2 separate regions of the Homo sapiens genome follow, and region 2 is linked to region 1. Evidence: fine-mapped expression QTL. A gene starts in region 1. The other region holds a variant in brackets. All regions are shown on one strand. Distances are between the middles of the regions.

What was found. PIP is the estimated chance that this variant, and not a neighbour inherited with it, causes the effect.
Region 2: its variant is fine-mapped to the expression of RMND5A in whole blood (TOPMed, PIP above 0.99).

The regions. Positions count from the first base shown.
Region 1 is chr2:86,716,580-86,725,388 of GRCh38, forward strand. RMND5A (required for meiotic nuclear division 5 homolog A) reads left to right here and starts at 3,712. Exons shown (of 9, transcript NM_022780.4): 1 at 3,712-4,230. The coding sequence starts at 4,089. It overlaps RNF103-CHMP3 (RNF103-CHMP3 readthrough), which reads right to left and starts at 4,543. Exons shown (of 8, transcript NM_001198954.1): 1 at 4,403-4,543. RefSeq lists enhancers at 2,905-3,438, 8,404-8,809 and silencers at 3,559-3,748, 3,632-3,790, 4,269-4,328.
Region 2 is chr2:86,749,897-86,758,705 of GRCh38, forward strand. It overlaps RMND5A (required for meiotic nuclear division 5 homolog A), which reads left to right. Exons shown (of 9, transcript NM_022780.4): 3 at 2,000-2,134; 4 at 3,562-3,662. Among named protein-coding and RNA genes, the nearest start is that of RNF103-CHMP3, 33 kb to the left of the region's middle. The variant C/T (reference allele first, on the strand shown) is at 5,180.

The DNA of each region.
Region 1 (8,809 bases):
TGTGTGGTGAAAATGCAATTATAGAAAACTAATTTGCGCGGCGCGCGGTGGCTCATGCCTGTAATCCCAGCACTTTGGGAGGCCGAGGCGCGTGGATCACGGGGTCAGGAGATCGAGATCATCCTGGCTAACACAGTGAAACCCCGTCTCTAGTAAAAATACAAAAAAAGATTAGCTGGGTGTGGTGGCGGGCGCCTGTAGTCCCAGCTACTCGGGAGGCTGAGGCAGGAGAATGGCGTGAACCCAGGAGGCGGAGCTTGCAGAGAGCCGAGATCGCGCCACTGCACTCCAGCCTGGGCGACAGATCGAGACGCTGGCTCAAAAAAAAAAAAAAAAAAAAAAAAAAAAACTAATTTGCAGTTGCTCTGAAAACTAAATTTCTTTCCCTGTTGTTTCTAGAGGTGCTTCTTTGACAATTCACAGTTTAGGCTTAAGGCAATTAGGCACTGTGTAGAAAGGGCCAATACAAAGTGAAGAAGCAACATAAATCTCTGCCCTTACAAGTACTATTTTTCTCTCCCAGCTAACTCTGAAGCCTCTTCTCCTCTAATCTGCGTATTCTTTTTCCTTTAACAAACACTTTTTTTCATGCTGATTAAATCATGGGAGATAAAAAGAAGTCAGCCCAGATCTGAAAACTGATAGTCTAGTTGAGTCAAAAAGGCACATGTTGGAAAAGTTAACTAAAAATATGGGGGCAGTATGCACTAAGGCATGAAATGACTTACACAGAGGTCTTACAGCAGTTAAAGGTAGGGCTGGTAACTTTACTGTGGTCATGGTCTAGATCAGCACTGTCCAACAAAACTTTTCTACAGTGATGGAAATATTTATTTTGCGCTGATTAATACAGTAGCCACCAGCTACATGTGGTTATTATTTGATATGTGGTTAGCACAATTGGGGAACTAAATTTTAAATTATCTAGCTTATATTTCAATTTAAATAGCTACACGTGGGTCGGGTGCGGTGGCTCACGCCTATAAATCCCAGCACTTTGGGAGGCTGAGGCGGGTGGATCACGAGGCCAGGAGTTTGAGACCAGCCAGGCCAATATGGTGAAACCCTGTCTCTACCAAAAATACAAAAATTAGCTGGGCGTGGTGGTGTGTGCCTGTAGTCCCAGCTGCTCAGGAGGCTGAGGTAGGAGAATCACTTGAACCCGGGAGGCAGAGGTTGCAGTCAGCCGAGATCCCACCACTGCACTCCAGCCTTGGTGACAGAGTAAGACTCCATCTCAAAACAAAAAAACAAAAAAACAAACAAACAAAAAAACCTGCTTGTGGCTGGTGATTATGGTATTGAAGAGTGCAGGACTAGGTTCTAGAAGGTGTCACTAGTTAAAGTAAGACTTGTCTTGTTACTTGAAGAAAGGGAGGATTCGAAAAACAGAATAAAGAAAAGTGTCCCAGAAGAAGGCAAAGTATGAATGGGCTGTACTCAAGTCACACTAAGGGTGGGAAAGTGCTTCATGCCTGGATAGGGGTTTGTGCTGTGTTGCTACACAGGGCAGACCATGTCCTTGAGAGAGGATCTGAAGCTGTAGGTAATGAGGAGTCATTGATTATTTGTGATCAGTGGATTATCATGGCTCTTACCTTGTGCCAGGCATTTTGTTGAGTGCCTTAAATGGAATATTTCATACTATAACAACCCTTTGAAGGAGAAGAAAAAAAAAAGACTGAGAAAAGGGTGACTGAGCTTATCAAGGAGATCCTTGAAGAAAAGGGAGGAATAAACATAGATTTGTCTAGGCAGTTTGGCAGTGAAAGAAATGAGTGCTTGAGGAGGGTTAAATTAAGTTTCCTCCCCCAGGTAGGTCAAACCCATTTGGGCTGAAAGTAGAAAGGAAGAACCTACTGCAGAGAAAGAGGGGGAAGATCTGGACAGGGGTGAGAGGCAGCCCGCAGGCCCCAACGGCTGTCTTGGAAAGGGAGAAGGGACTCCTGGTCCTTTGGGTACATGAGAATGTTCACAAAATGGGTGGTACACAGCAATACTTGGAGAAGAGTGATAGAAGTTGCTGGAGCTAGATTTTTTTTTTTTTTTTAATCTCAGTGAAGAATCAGAGACATCTGCCAAGAGGGAAGAAAAATGGGGTGGGGAGAAGGGAGATCTGAAATAATACCAGTTGGGGCTGCCCTAATAATGACTACTACCACCTTTATCATGTGGTTATCATGAGCCTATTATGGGTATTTACATATATTCTCCTTTATCTAACAATTTAGTTAAGTATTAATTCCAATTATTTCTCAGTTATACGGAAGTTAAGGCTCAAAAACGTTATCACGTTAATTTAAGAAAAAGAATTGCCTACCACCTCACGCCAGGGGCTGTTCTAGGCAAAAAATTTAGACAAGCAGGGGGCCTGCCGTCATGGTTTTATGTAAGTGGTGCAGACAGAAAAATAAAACATCAGATCATTTCAGAGTTTAAGTGGTGTGGAAATAATAAAATGTGTTATGGTATTAACGGTGGGGAGGAAGTACATTAGTGTGGTCAGCCAGGGGAGGACCCTGTAAGGGGACAAGTGAGCTGAGAAGAACTTCAGGATGAAAAAGGTAGGAGGAAGAGTTTTCTGGGCCAAGGAAAGGGCAAGTGCAGAGGCCCTGAGGCACGAACTAGCTGGGCTCCTGAAGAAATGCAAAGGTAGTGCAGCCGATGCTGATCAAGGAGGTCTAGGCCAAGGCTGCAGACGCCATAGCAAGCGATGGGAAGGATTTACCCGAGGGGGTAAAGCCGATCCGATCCGATAGCATAAGGCTTCCTAGGGAGCAAGGGCCAGGCTGCCCGGCTCTCCAGCGCGTGTTCTTTCCACCCGGCTAAGCTGCCCGGCACATGGCTCTGGGGCGAGGCCACCGTCAGGAGAGGTTCCAGGCCAAGGGGCCAAAGGGCCACGGTCCGCGGGGGATGGGGACATGACCTCCTGGGTGTCGCAAGCCCGGGGCAGCGCTGACAGCCGGCGCGGGCCTTTCGCGAGCAGCAAGCGGCTCCCCTCACCCGGGCCCAATCACCCCCGCCTTTAATTCCCATTAGGGACCCCCCGCCGACGCAGAACCAGCCCCCGGGCGGCCTGGCTTGGTTTTTCATTCCCGGGAGATGGATCCGTCGCCCAAAAGTTCGGAATGACGGTACCCCTTTCCCTTAAGATCGATGAGGAGACGAAATAAATTGGGATCAGGGCGACGTCCTATGGAAAACAGCCTTTTGTATTTTTGTCTAGTTTTCCCCCAAGGCTTTCCATAAACTACTCGTTTCTCGGTACGCTCTCCAAGTCACCCCCTCCAACAGCGAGCCCGTTGGTTTGGCCCCTCAGCCCGGATTGGCTGAAGGCTTACGCCTCGGCCAGGGATTGGCTTCTTACCACTCCCCGCGCCCATTGGTTGGGGTTCCCCGCTTCTGGGCGGAGTGGTGAGGGCCGGTTTCCGCCTCCTTGTTTATGGAGCGCGTAGTTGTTGCGCTCTCCGAGCGCTGGGGCTGTCTCCAAAGTTCCCTATTTAGCTCCTCAGGCCAATTGGGGCCTCGCTCCACCCTCGCCCTCTCCCTCGCACGCCTTCCGTGTGGTACGGCCCACACCATTAGAGTGGCGGCGCGTGTGGGCGCCCGTCGCGTTCCTCCGCCCGTTCTCGCCGGGTCGCACCCCCCACCCCGAGGGTGTACTTGGTACGGCCCGCGCCGCCTCCTTTCCTCGCCCGGGTGGCCATCCCCCTCCCCCCAGTCGGCGGCGCTTGGTGCCGCCCGGGAGAACCAGGTCATCGGTCGGTTCCCGTGAAAACAAAAACAATCGGCCGCGCCGTCGCAGGCACCCGAACGTCGCGAGCGGGGCCTGGGGACGCGGAGCCGAGTGCAGCGAGCGAACGGGAGCAGCGGCGACTCGCCGGGGGGCTAGGGCGCCATGGGGCAGGCGGGCTCCGGCTGCGCGGGGCTCCCCCGGCGCCGCGGCTAGTGCGCCCGCCGCCTCGGCCGCCTCAGCCTCCCGCGCCGCCCGCTTGGGGAACGAGGAGCAGGACGCGGCCTCGGTGGGGCCCGGGCCGAACGGCTGCGGACACCTGGGCGCCGAGGAGCCGAGCGCCGCCGCCTCCGGCATGGATCAGTGCGTGACGGTGGAGCGCGAGCTGGAGAAGGTGCTGCACAAGTTCTCAGGCTACGGGCAGCTGTGCGAGCGCGGCCTGGAGGAGCTCATCGACTACACCGGCGGCCTCAAGCACGAGATCCTGCAGAGCCACGGTAGGGCGGCCCGCGTGGGCGCGCGGGGCATGGCCCACTGCCCGAGCCCCGGTCCCGGCCCCGCGGCGGGAATCCCTCACCCACCCTCGCGCCTCTGGCCCGGCCCTTGCCTCCCCTGAGGCGCGGAGGCCCCCAGACCCCTGAGACTTTTTCCCCTCTTCGTCCGATTTACCTCGAACCTGCCGCGACCTCGCTGCCAATTCAGAAGGAGCGCGAACCACCCGGAAACCCAGCCGGGAGCGGCGGGCTCCAGTCCGGATAAACGTGGGTGAGGGGGCCGCCCATCGCACCTGCAAACTGCCGACCCCCGAGTGGGCGCCCCTCGTCCCCCGCTCCCAGCCGGCCCCGGGAGTCTCACGTGGTGCCCGCGGCGCTGTTCTGTGGGCGGTGACTGAATCGCCTGGGACCCCAGGTTCTGAGTGATGAGGGCAGTGCAGGAAGCTCCGTTTCCCCTCTGTGCCGCCCCGAATCCTTGGCCAGGGGACTTCGTTTCTTCGTTTTATTTTGGAAAGTCGAGCGTTATTCTTAGCTGTGGGTTAACAACAGCCGCTCCTGCAACTTCATGATTTGGCTGCTGTGTGGACGCAGCTCTTAACTCCGCAGCGGCTCTGACATGGTTCCTTGGAAACCAGCTCAATTCAACCCTTCTGTTCTCCCAGTGTACCTTCTGATGACACCGAGGAGGAACGGGCGACATTTGCCCAAGTAAATTGTGCACATGTTGCTAGTTACTTGCTTTGCCTGGTTAAGTTCGTTCAAAAAAAATAAATTTTCCTATAGAAGGTGTTTCACCTAGATTGTTTTTTTTTTTACTGCCCCAAGCCCTGAGGACAGGTACTTTTAAAGGTTTGGTTTTCTTACACTTTAGAAGTCACAGCGATGATTCCTTTTGATCAAGAAGTGAAGGACTTATTTAATGGGTCTTTAATAAGAGGCTGAGGGGGCTTTTCAGCTTGTGGGCTGAACAGAAATTTATGTGAAGGACGGTTTGGTAGCTGGGGGAAGATGCAGATTATTTGTGGCAGGTGAGATGAGGGCAGTGGCGTTAGCTGAGTGTCTCTCTCCTTCTCCTTCATTTTTTCACACTTTCCCAGACTGCGTTTCAGTTGAGGATGGGTGCTGGTCCATGGGAAAGGAGTCTTACAGCAGCTTCTCATTCTGGACACTGCAGTCATTTTTGAACTCCAGGAAGGAAGCAAACCTGCAGTCATAGTGGATGAGATTTTAATATGGAAAAACCGTATTAATTCTCATAGGAGTTGCAATACTAGTATGGAAAAACGAGCAGACCTTGGTGGCTGCCTGTGAAGGGAAATTTGACTGACGTGGCGATGATGATATAGTTGGTAGATACAGGGAAGTGAAGGTGGAATGGGACAGGAATCCTGGGAAGACTTTGAATTTGGTTTTGGACATGTGAAGTAAGGTTGAAGGGCTTAATGAAGATAGAATCGAGGGCTTTCCTATTTACTGGTGGCTGGAGATGCATAGGTCTAAGATTGTTTTCTGATGTCATTTCTAGGAGGACAGTGGAGGGGATCACTTAGATTGCACAGAAGAAAGACTAGAGTCTAACCACAGTCTTGAATTTTCCTTGGCGAGTGGAGAGCCAAGGCTAGATAGAGCCAGCAGAAATCGAAAAGGGCGAGGACTTAGAAAAGGAGAGATTGGTCAGCTTTTATTTGGCTATTGGGAGTCAGTAACCCTCTGTGCTTGCAGTTTCATAGAATTGCTAAGACAAGCCAGATTACTGGGGGTTAAGAAGAAAAATTCGATGTGAACCGAGGTGTGGGAAATCCAGTACAGCGGTGGGAGGTATTCCCTCTGTGCTCCCGGCCCTGCCAAGGAACCAGTGGAGGAAGAGAATGAAGGGCCTAGACTTGGAGAGGTGGAAGGAACATTTCGTTTTTAGGGACCAGGTCATAGGCAGAGTTTGAGAGGAAAATGATGGAACAGAAAGTACCTTTCTTCCATGAGAGAGGATGTAAGTTGAAGGGGGATGTGATTGTGAGCTTTGTTTTAGAAAATTTAGGGCCAGGCTCAGATGGATAAAATGATGGTGAGAAATTGCTGAGGCAGGAATTTGTTTTTGACTCTCCACTGGGTACTAGGGAACTTTTCTCAGAATTTATGGTTTGAGGGGTATTGGCCACACAGTATGCTATGCTGTTAAAAACAGTCTGAGTTGGTGAGTTTGTGTGTTCCCTTTTCAGCCTCCTAATTTTTTCCCTCTTGTCTACCAAATTGCTAGTCTTATATTGGTATCTCTTTGATTTCCTTTAATTCTTCAATAATAGGATTAAGTGACTAAAGGTAGTTATAAAACATGAAAGAAAATAAATACCACAAGTGCCAGGTCTAGTTTCCCAAATAAAATCTTTCTTCTTTTGGTGTTTTTTTGTGTAAAGATAAACATCATGCTTTGGCATCTGGGCTATGGTATTTTTGAAAACAGATGATTTCTAAATTAAAGTTCTCGGCAGGTGATGTGGTAGATATTACATTGAAACTTAAATATGCCCTTCTCAAAGGTATTTTACTGAAAACTGAGTTTGGAACTCTATTTTCAAGTTTAAAGGGAAGATTTTTGGGCTTCTGAATATACCTGTCTGGGCAAATGATTCTGATAACCTGAGAGGCTCTAATTGGGACCCCTCTGTCAGGACTTTGGACCTCATTCTCTGAGATTACTTGTGGTAATACTTGCAAGAATCTGGTATGAATAAAACAGAATTTTTGAGGACTATATAGAACACATCATTGCATCATACTGGTGAATGACTGTTGCAGAAGCATCCTTTAGCCAACCTAAAGGGATTGGTTCAGTTTCTGAGGATGAATGTTTTATGTTAAAATTTTTTTTTCATCTCTGAAGTTGTGAGCAGACAGCTATATACTAAATGAGCTGTTAGGATAGTTTGTGATGGAAACTGATCATACATAAATAAGAGTTTAGTTAGTAAGCCCATTGACAACCCTTTTCTAGTCTCAGCACCCTTATTCCAGATTGTAAATACTGCCTGATTGCTGGCTGGGAGATAGTCCTGCAGTGAGCCCTAAAATTTCTCAGGTGGTCTAAATCACCTTTAAGTAGCTTGAAATTCTTTTACATAAAATTTCTCTCGTTAATCTTTTTTAAAATGCAAGTTTCTTAATGCAGATACACTTGGGGAAATGAGGATAGTATGGGCTGGTCTCTCATACCTGGTGAATTGGTTTGTGCTCTGCCATTTAATCCACCTCTGGCCAAATCCGTCAGCCTGACAACAGGAATATCTTTTTTTTTTTTTCTTTTAAATGGGGTTGGACTGGTATCAGGCCTGCAGCAGAGAACAATAATGGAATATAAGGCTCTGAGAGGGAAGTGCAGGCTTCGACTTGGTGCCATAGACAGTTAGGGAATATTGGTGGTTCAGGGACAACATAGGTGTAATAGAAACATGAAGAGGCAATAAGAACCAGGGAGAATACTGAAGAGCTCTGCCGAGGCCAAGACATTCCTCTCCCTGGAGACTGACTCTAGACTTCTCTTCATGCCTTTGGAATTAGAAACCTTAGGGTGGTAGATAGGAGGGTGGGGAGTGATCCAGAGCCTGCAGTGAGGTGTCCAAGGTAAGAGGAATAGAGATCACAGCTTCTGTCATTTAGTTGTGCCAGCCTTTCAGTGAGAGTTTCCCTGTGAGCACGAAGTTTGGTCTAAGTTCATTGTGGTTAATGTAGGCTGGTGGTCATTCCCAGTGTGCCTCGATCTAATTTGTATAGTGCACTGGTGCTTCTAAAACTTCACTCATACACATGTGCACTCTTATTTTTCAGATGGATTCACGATTTTACTTAAGTAGATTTATCTTAGGCAGTGATATTTGTGTAGTCCTACATGTGGTATGTAGGTATTAGGTATAATAAACTACATGTTAAAATAAATTCATAACAATTAAAATATTAGTTTACATACTAGCTAAAATTACCATTCGCATCAGTGGTATGGGAGCGGTGCTTTGGATAACCCTGGCTTAACAGGGTTAACTACTGTATGGTTAACTTTTAGTGATTTGATTTGTGAGTATATGCCTTTTAGCATTTTTTTCCTATTGGCAAATTTATATTGTTTCCCATTAGCACCTCTGTGGTGGAAGGGAAAAACAGAAAAGAACTATTTATCATGTTTTGCTGGTATTCTGCACTCATACTTTGTGAAAGAAAATTAGGCAGAAACAGTTGGTAATGGTTTCAGGACACATTTAAAAGTATACTTGGGAAAATTGCAGTTTTTGTAAGAGTAAAGGACATGCAGTATTCTTTTCTGATTATTTTTAGACTAACGGAGTTCTAATGTGGTTTCTGAAAGTGACTTTCAAGGAATTTTCTAAATTTAAAATTTATTTATTAATTTTTAGTAAGTCATACATTCAAATGGTATCCATTCAAACAATGAAAAAGATAACCCAGTGAATAGTACATTCAAATGGTATAAACTCAAATGATAAAAAAGGACACCCATTGAAAAATCTTTCTACTCTTGTTCCTGGACCACCTGGTTGCCCACTTCACAGACATAAATGCCAGTCTCCAGAAAAAA
Region 2 (8,809 bases), 33 kb after region 1:
TGCTTAATTTTGGAGAAAAGCACTCCTGCATTGTGATTGTAAATAGTGGGTTGTTTGCAGTTGCTGTTGCTGGTTACTTACTACCTGTTCTTGTACATCATGTAAAATAATCCCATATTGGTTGGACTGTATATTTAAGCAGTGGTTGACTAGGATTGCAATTTTAGTTAAATCTAAATGGCCTTGTCTAGTTAAGTTTATATATTTTTAAAAAGAAATGCAAAACATTTATTAGGGAGCAATGCCTATGAAAGATAAAGGGTGCTGAAGTGGAATTAGGCTGGGAAAGCTTTCACACTGTGATGTACGTTTGCTCTTCTTTCACTCTTGATGTTTCATGTTCCTTCTGGTGTCATTTTCTTCTGTCTGAAGACTTTAGCAATACTTTTAGAGCAAGTCTGATGGCAGTAAATTCAGTTTCCCTCCGTCTGAGAATGTCTTTATTTCATCTTCATTCCTGAAGGATATTTTCACTGGATATAGAATTCTAGGATGACAGTTATTTTCTTTCAGTACTTGACAAATGTCATGCCACTTCTTTCTGGCCTCCATAGTTTCTGTTGAGAAATCTGTAGTCATTTGAATCATGGTTCCCCTGTAAGTAACATGTCACTTTTCTCTGGCTGCCTGCAAGATTTTTTGCTTTATCTTTAGTTTTAACAGTTTGAATGTGAGATGTTTGGGTCAGATTTCTTTGAATTTGTCCATGTTGGAGTTCACTGACCTTCTAGAATCTGAGATTTATGTCTTTTGCTAAACTTGGGAAATACTCTTCAACTATTTTTTTCTGTACCATACTGTTTCTCTTCTCCTAGTATTCCGATGACACACACGTTAGAGCTTTTGTAATTTTCCCACAGGTCCCTGAGGCTCTGTTTTTTTTTTTTTTTTAAACTGGTGTTCAGATTGGATGAATTCTATTGATTTTCACTGACTTTTTGCACTGCCACTTTGCTTCTGCTGTTGAAAAATTCATCCAATGAATTTTTTATTTTGGTTACTCTATCAGCTTTTTCCTTGCTAAGTCTCTCCCTTTGTTTCAAGATTGTTTGTATTTTTATAATAACTGCCCTAAAGTTTTGGATGGTTCCAGCATCTCTGTCATGTTGGCATTGGTGTCTGTTGATCATCTTTTTCCATGTGAGTTGAGATTTTCTTGGTTCTTTGTATGCCAAGTAATTTTGCAGTATCTTGAACATTTTGAATATGTATTATAGTACTCTGGGTCTTGTTTAAGTTCTGTGGAGAGTGTTGGTATTTTTGTTTTAGCAGGCAATCAACCTTGTTGGATTCAGGCCACAAGTTCTAACCAGTCTTTTCTGGGTTGTAGTTTCAGTGTTAGTTTTGTTTCTAAAGCCATTACAGTTATTTAGATTTGTCCTGTGTGTGTAACACCTGGTAGCCAATATGGGACCTAGGAATTAGGTCTATTCCCTAGTTCAGTTTTCAAAATCTGTAGTATGCTGTTTAGAGTCAGGACCATGCATGTATAGCTCAAAGGCAAACCCAGAGGTGTAGATAAACCACTCTCTTAACTAGTTGGCCATGCCCCCACAACCACTTTCAGCCTCAATACTGCAGTTGTTGGGATGTGCCATGGATTATTATGTTGATAGGCATATGTGTTTTCTCCTTTTTTCCCCTCCCATTATAGACAGTGCTGCAGTGGGCATGCTTTTACAGGTCATCATTGCATTCCTCTAAAAATATTGCTGCATATAATGCCTAGAAATCAGTTCATTCGCTTGATTTTATTTTATTCATGGACACCATTATTAAATCTACTTTAAAAAAACATTATCTAAAAATATACCTATTTACTCTTCTAGCATGACAAGTTTTAGAAAGGAGCAGTGGAAAAATTCCTTCCTTTGGGACGCTATAAATTGCAGTTGGGTTCTTATTGGGGTATCTCAGACTGAAACAAAGACCATTTTTTTCCTGTTAAGTGGGGTGAAAATAATCTATTTATGATTCCCTTTCTCTTTCTTTTCCCCAGAATTTTGATTCTGACATTAGCAGTGTGGGAATAGATGGCTGCTGGCAGGCAGACAGCCAAAGGCTTCTCAATGAGGTGATGGTGGAGCACTTCTTTCGACAAGGAATGCTGGATGTGGCTGAGGAGCTCTGTCAGGTAACAGTGTGCCAACTGGGAGGATATGAAAAAGAAACAAGGGAACTCCTTGGAGTTTATAGTATTTGCAGGGTGGGGTTTTGAGTCTTCCTCTAGCTATAGATAGATTTTTAATATTTAAATTATCAGAGATGACCTCATTTTACTAGGAGTATTTTGGGGAATTTTTTAAGTGGCAAAAATTATAGTTCTAGAACTTGTTATCCAGATCATTTTTTTCTTGTTCCTGTCCCAGAAGGTTAGTCCCAGTTCATGAATCAAAGGGCGCAAAAGCGATATTCTTTCTTCATGTCCATTTTTGATATAGAAGGTTAGTATAGCAGACAAGAGGAAAGGGACAAAAACATTGATGTTTGTTCTTCTGTTCTAGCCCAGCTTAAACGATTTTATCAAATGAATTTCCAGCTAAAATTTTTTACTTCGCATTAGCAGCATTTGTCTTTTATTTCTATCACACATGAGTTAGAACTCTACAACAGTTTACCAATACCATGTAGTCATAATAGTAGTAGCTGCCATATATTGAGTGCTTACCTTAAGCCAAGCCCTGCCTTTATTCCTTGCTGCAATCCCATGAAGTAAAAATTATTGTTTCCATTCTACAGATGAAAAATCTAAGGTCTGGAGAAGTAAGTTGCCCGAGGCCTTAACAGGTTCTTTGTGAAAGAACTGGGATTCAGTCCCTGATTCATATGTCTTCACACTCCGTTCTAAGCCACCATGTGCTGTTGCATTTTTGTTTGGAAACATGAAGGACCGAAAGAATTAGTTTAAAATCAGTCTGTAAACCAAACCTCTAATCTAAGCCTTTTCTATTTTAAACAATTCAGATAAATGATAACTCGGTTTTTCTCTGTACCTTACAGGGATTTTGTGTATGTGTCCATGTAATTTCCTGCAGTAAACTGTCATTGAGGATTGTTTGCTTTTAAGTAACAAAAGACCCACAATTACAGTGGCTTAAGCAAAAGTGAAATTTTTTTCTTGCACAGAAATCGGTAGTAAGACGTCCACAGCATGTTTGGTAGCTCTGCATTGTGAAACTCTTAGGGACTTAGCACCTTGTACCTCTGTTATTCCCAGGGTGTCTCCTGTCTTCAGAGTCCAGGATAGCAGCCAAAGCTCCAGCCATACCTTTGTATCCCAGAAAGGGGCAGAGTGCATATTTATGTTTCATTGGTCAGAACTTAACGTCTTACAAAGCCATACCCAGCTTTATTCCATTTGCTTATGTACCCTGCTGAAATTTGGGGATTCTACTATGGAAAAGAGGGGAAGAATGTACTAGGGGGCAGTCATCAGTCTCTACTATAGGGAATTATCTTTAATGGCTTGCCCCATATTTTACAATCTAGAATATACTTTTACCACTAGCTCCTTACCCTGATTACTGCTAACAAAAGTTCTTTCTTTCTTTCTTTTTCCAGGAATCTGGTCTTTCTGTAGACCCAAGTCAGAAGGAACCATTTGTGGAGTTAAATAGAATATTAGAGGCATTAAAGGTCAGAGTTCTGAGACCTGCTCTGGAGTGAGTATTGAGTTTGCTTTCTTTTGAGTACTTTGAGAACTCTCTGTAAGAAAACTCAATCAGAAAACACATTAGAGATTTTTAGATATATTTATCTTACCTGTGGTAGACTTCAGAGAAATCAAAGGAGAATTATTTTATTTATTTTGGCTAAGTGAAATATGGGGGGTGTGCAATATGAGAAAATGGTTGGAGCTTATTTCACTTATCAGTTGGTCTGAATTCCCATGAGAGAAAAGGGTTTTCTGTTTCCAGGCTACACCACCACTTTGTGTGGGCTGACATTACAACAAGCACTATTGTTCAGCCAGTGCAAGTTTGATATTTAAGCTTCCTTCATGTGCTGGGTTTTGCTGGGTTTTATGCTAGCATTCTAAGAAATTATTGGTTATTGGAACTAGGTGGTGTGGATGAAGAGAACAAATATTTTTATAAAGCTACTCTATTCTTAATTACTGTGGATTTTGGTAATTGACCATGAACCTCTCATTGATAAGAATTGTCTGAAATTACTCTGTAAGCTATAATAAATATTATTCTAGAGCAGGGTCAGCAAGCTTTTCCATAAAGGACCAAGTAGGAAATATTTTAGGCTTTTCATTTCACATAAGGTCTCTGTCGCATATTCTTCATTTTATTTTACAACCCTTTAAAAATTTAAAAACCCATTCTTGGCCATCTGCTATACAAAACAGGCAGCAAGCTGTATGTGGCCTGTGCCATAGTTTGCTGGCCCCAGTCCTAAAATTTTTTACTGTGAGGATTACCAGGTTATTTGTAATAAATAGCTCATAAAATAAAGGGAAGAAACTGGATTATAGAAGCAGTGATTTGTTGTGAGCTTATAGCTTTGGAATCCTGGTATTTTAAAACCAGAAAAATTAACCATCAGTGTTACAGGGTTAGCTGGGAAGTTGACTTTTATAAAATGTACACTTTTTCCCTTAAAATTTAGTTCCACTAACCCATTTAATTCTTCATAGCTTAGTTTTTTCTTTCTAATCATTTCTCAGTTCTTTCTCCTTTTTGAGACAGGGTCTCACTGTCACCCAGGCTAGAGTGCAGTGGCATAATCATGGCTCACTCCAGCCCCAACCCCCCAACCTCCCGCCTTAGCCTCCTGAGTAGTTGGGACTACAGGACTGTGCCGTTATGCCCAGCTAATTAAAAAAAATTTTTTTTTGTAGAGACAGGATCTCACTATGTTACCCAGGCTGGTTTCGAACTCCTGAGCTCAAGTGATTCTCCCACCTCGGCTTCCCAAAGTGCTGGAATTACAGACTTGAGCCTCTGTACTTGGCCATTTCTCAGTTCTGAGAAAATTTTGTGTAGTTCTAAAACCAGCCCAGATGACTAGACAGAAATTCCTGTATAAATTTATATAAAATTCTTGTATAAATTATAATAGATCTCACTTAAGAACTGTATCTCTGTGTAAGATGCATATTACCTTTGTAGAATTTGTTTAAGCAAATTTCAGATTGTGACACATCTGGGAGATAAATTCAACCAAATAC[C/T]TCTAACACCTCTTAAACAAAATATGGCAACAACTACTTTTTTTTTTTTTTTTCCCAAAGAGACAGAGTCTTGCTCTGTGGCCCAGGCTAGAGTGCAGTGGGATGATCATAGCTCACTGCACACTCTCAAACTCCTGGGCTTAAGTAATCCTCCTGCCCCGGCCTCCTGAGTAGCTAAGACTACAGGTGCACACCACCACACCTGGCTAATTTTTAAATATTTTATAGAGACAGGATTTCTCTATGTCGCTCAGGCTGGTCTCAAACTTCTGGCCTCAAGTGATCCTCCTGGAGCGTCAGCTGCCCGAAGTACTGGGATTATAGGCATGGGCCAATGTGCCCGAGAAAGCCTACATACATATATGAACATGTAATGGGTTTCCCAGTTGTTTTATAGTGATTAGCAAATAATATTTGGGTTGTTATTCAAGGTAATATTCACTTATCTATGCGTTTCTTAGGTTTTTTCATTAAACTTTGTTCATATGTGCTAGTCATGTACGTACTATGACTATATCTGTAGTCACTGGCACATAGTATTTGCTACCTTAGCCTTCAGAGTACTCCAGACTTTTCTCCTAAGAGCCTTTTAAACTTTGTGCGTATATAAGATATGTTTCTTATTGATAAGCATGTTATGTATATTGATTATTTCTGTAAATTTTGTCTATTATTTGTTGCCTTAAAACAATTCCTCTCAGGCAGAGAGAGGACTTGTTCCATAAGTAAAAATTTTCTCATTTCATGTTTCTGGGAGTAGTGTTTAATATCAGCATGAGGGAATGTAGTGGTAATCATAGTTAACTCTGCTTGAGTGGTTATTGTATGCCTAGCATCGTTCTAAGCATTTTACGTGTCTTAACCTATTCAACCCTCATATTAACCTATGAGGTAAGTCATCTTACAGAGAAGCAATTAGGGCCTAGAAGATCCTCTGTGAAAAAAAGTCAAAAGATTATATGAGAAATGCTTTACATAATAGTCCCCCAGTATTCTCATTTGAGGTTCATTTTAACTTATTAAGTGTATCATCAAGCCAGGTGCAGTGGCTCACACCTGTAAGCCCAGCACTTTGGGAAGCTGAGGTGGGCAGATCGCTTGAGCCCAGGAGTTCGAGACCAGCCTGGGCAACATAGCAAAACCCTATCTCTACAAAAAAATAGAAAAATTAGCTGGGTATGGTGGTGTACGCCTGTAGTCTGAACTACTCAGGAGGCTGAAATGGGAGGATCACTTGAGCCCAGGAGGCGGAGTCTGCAGTGAACCAAGACCACACCACCACTCCAGAGCCGAATCCTGTCTCAAAAAATAAGAAAATAAATAGAAGTAAAAACGTACCATCAGTAATCCTACAGTAAAGAAACTCATTTAACTTGGTATAACCCAGTGTTTTCTCTGTGTATTTGACCAATCTTGTTTTCCCTCCAGATAACACATTTAAAACCCATAAAATTGGAGTTATACAAAACATAAGATTTAATAGAAATCGTCATTACAACAATTCAGATTTTTCCAATTCTTGCCTATTGTGGGTGCAGAGCAGATACTGACTAAGCATCTTTCATGAGCTAGGTACAGAAAATTCCCTTTACTCAACTTACAGCAAAAGTTGAATGATATGGGACTCCAATTTGGGGAATTCTAGTTAAGGTACAAGGCGGGAGATATCTGCCAGTTATGCAGCATCCCATTTGTTCCTGCTGGGAAGGATATCATGGAGCTCACAAGGGAAAAGAGGAAGGAGAGGATGCAGCAATTCCTCCAGACTGCCTATGCGGTGAGAAGGCAGAGGCCAGCCAAAAATTTGAGGTGGCTAGGCCGGGCACGGTGGCTCATGCCTGTAATCCCAGCACTTTGGGAGGCCAAGGCGGGCGAATCATCTGAGGTCAGGAGTTCAAGACGAGCCTGACCAACGTGGAGAAACCCCATCTCTATTAAAAATACAAAATTAGCCAGGTATGGTGGCGCATGCCTGTAATCCCAGCTACTCAGGAAGGCTGAGGCAGGAGAATCGCTTGAACCCGGGAGGCGGAGGTTGCGGTGAGCCAAGATCGCGCCACTGCACTCCAGCCTGGGCAACAAGAGTGAAACTCAGTCTCAAAAAAAAAAAAAAAAAAAAAAAAAAAAAAAAAGTGGAGGTGGCTAAAGGCCATTGAGGGCCTAGGGGAATGGTGATATTGTGGAGAGAAGTGGCAGAACAACACCTGATTACATAGATCTAATCAGGACCTTGCCTGCTCCTGTGTTCCGTGCCCTTGTACCTCTGAGTTTGTACAGATTTTCCCCCTCATCCAGATTTCTTTTATGCTCACCCAGATTGTTTTATTTGCTTTTTGAATTTCTCTTGGCGCCTAGAGTAGTGCTTACCTCATAGTAGGCCCTCAATGAATAACAGTAATCTGCAGGAGAATTTAGAGCAAACTTGTCATCCTCTTCCATGGTGGCAGATAGAAAGCCAAAAATAGTGTTAACGAGAGAATAGTAACTTAATACAACGAGGTGGGGGAAATATTAGAAAAAATAGGAACTGTCCTTGTAGCTATGCCATTATTAACATACATATTGAAAGAAAGCACTATCTTTAGGGGAAGCTACTTGGTTGCCTTCCTAAACGTGTCTCAAAGAGTAATACTACCTTGCTGGATTTGCCACAGTCTAGTATCTGACTTTCAGCTTTGCAGACTTGGAAACTTGTTTTTGGTGTCCTTATTTTGTTTTGTTTTCACTAAGAACAGGCCTTTAAAAACGATAAAAACCTGAATTGCTAAGCTGCGTACATAGTTTGGATTATTAGGGGCTGTGAAACAAGCTTGTGGTAGGCAGGTCCATGTGGAAGGCACATGAGCTTGCAAAGCCTGGAGTTGGAACAAGAGGAGATTGTTCTAGAAAATGTTCAAAGTTCTCAGGCTAAAATGTCCTGATGCCATTATGTCCACCATGGAGGTTGTGTTGCAGAGCCGTTGGGCAGTTCAGACTTCATTCACTGACTCCTTTTCTCAAAATTGTCCTTGGCTTGCCTTGGTCGAGTTTTGAGTCAGCATTAAGTATCCCAATAGGTAATAAATAAGAGTACAAAATCAAAAGGCACAACAAGATAAAAATACAGTGAAAAGTAAATCTCCCCACCTTTGCCTTCTAATCACAGTTACTCTCCAAACAGGCAGCCACCATTAACTGTATTATGTATACGTACATTTTTATGCACAAGTGGTTGCATACTATACACAGTGTTCTGCTTTTTACTTGAAAAATTTTGAAGTATTTGCCTATATCAGAGCATATAGAACTATTTTTTTTTTTTGGTGGCTGCTTAGTGTTCTCTTTTAGGGATTATACCTTAATTTTATTTAGCCAGTTCCTATGGATGGACGTTTGTAGTTTCCGATATTTTGCTTTATAAGTGATGCAGCATTGAATATCCGTTGCACATTATTTTGAGCATGCCTGCTAGATATGTTGTCCAATATGGTGACCACTCCTATGTGTAGCTCTTACTAATCTCTGCATTACTGAGAACCTCATGTAAAAGGGTGTGTGTGTGTGTCTTAAATAGAGTCAGATATGCAATACCATAGTTTGTGTGGTTTCTTAAATAGCATGTGAAAAGGACAGAGACTCACACCAACTCTG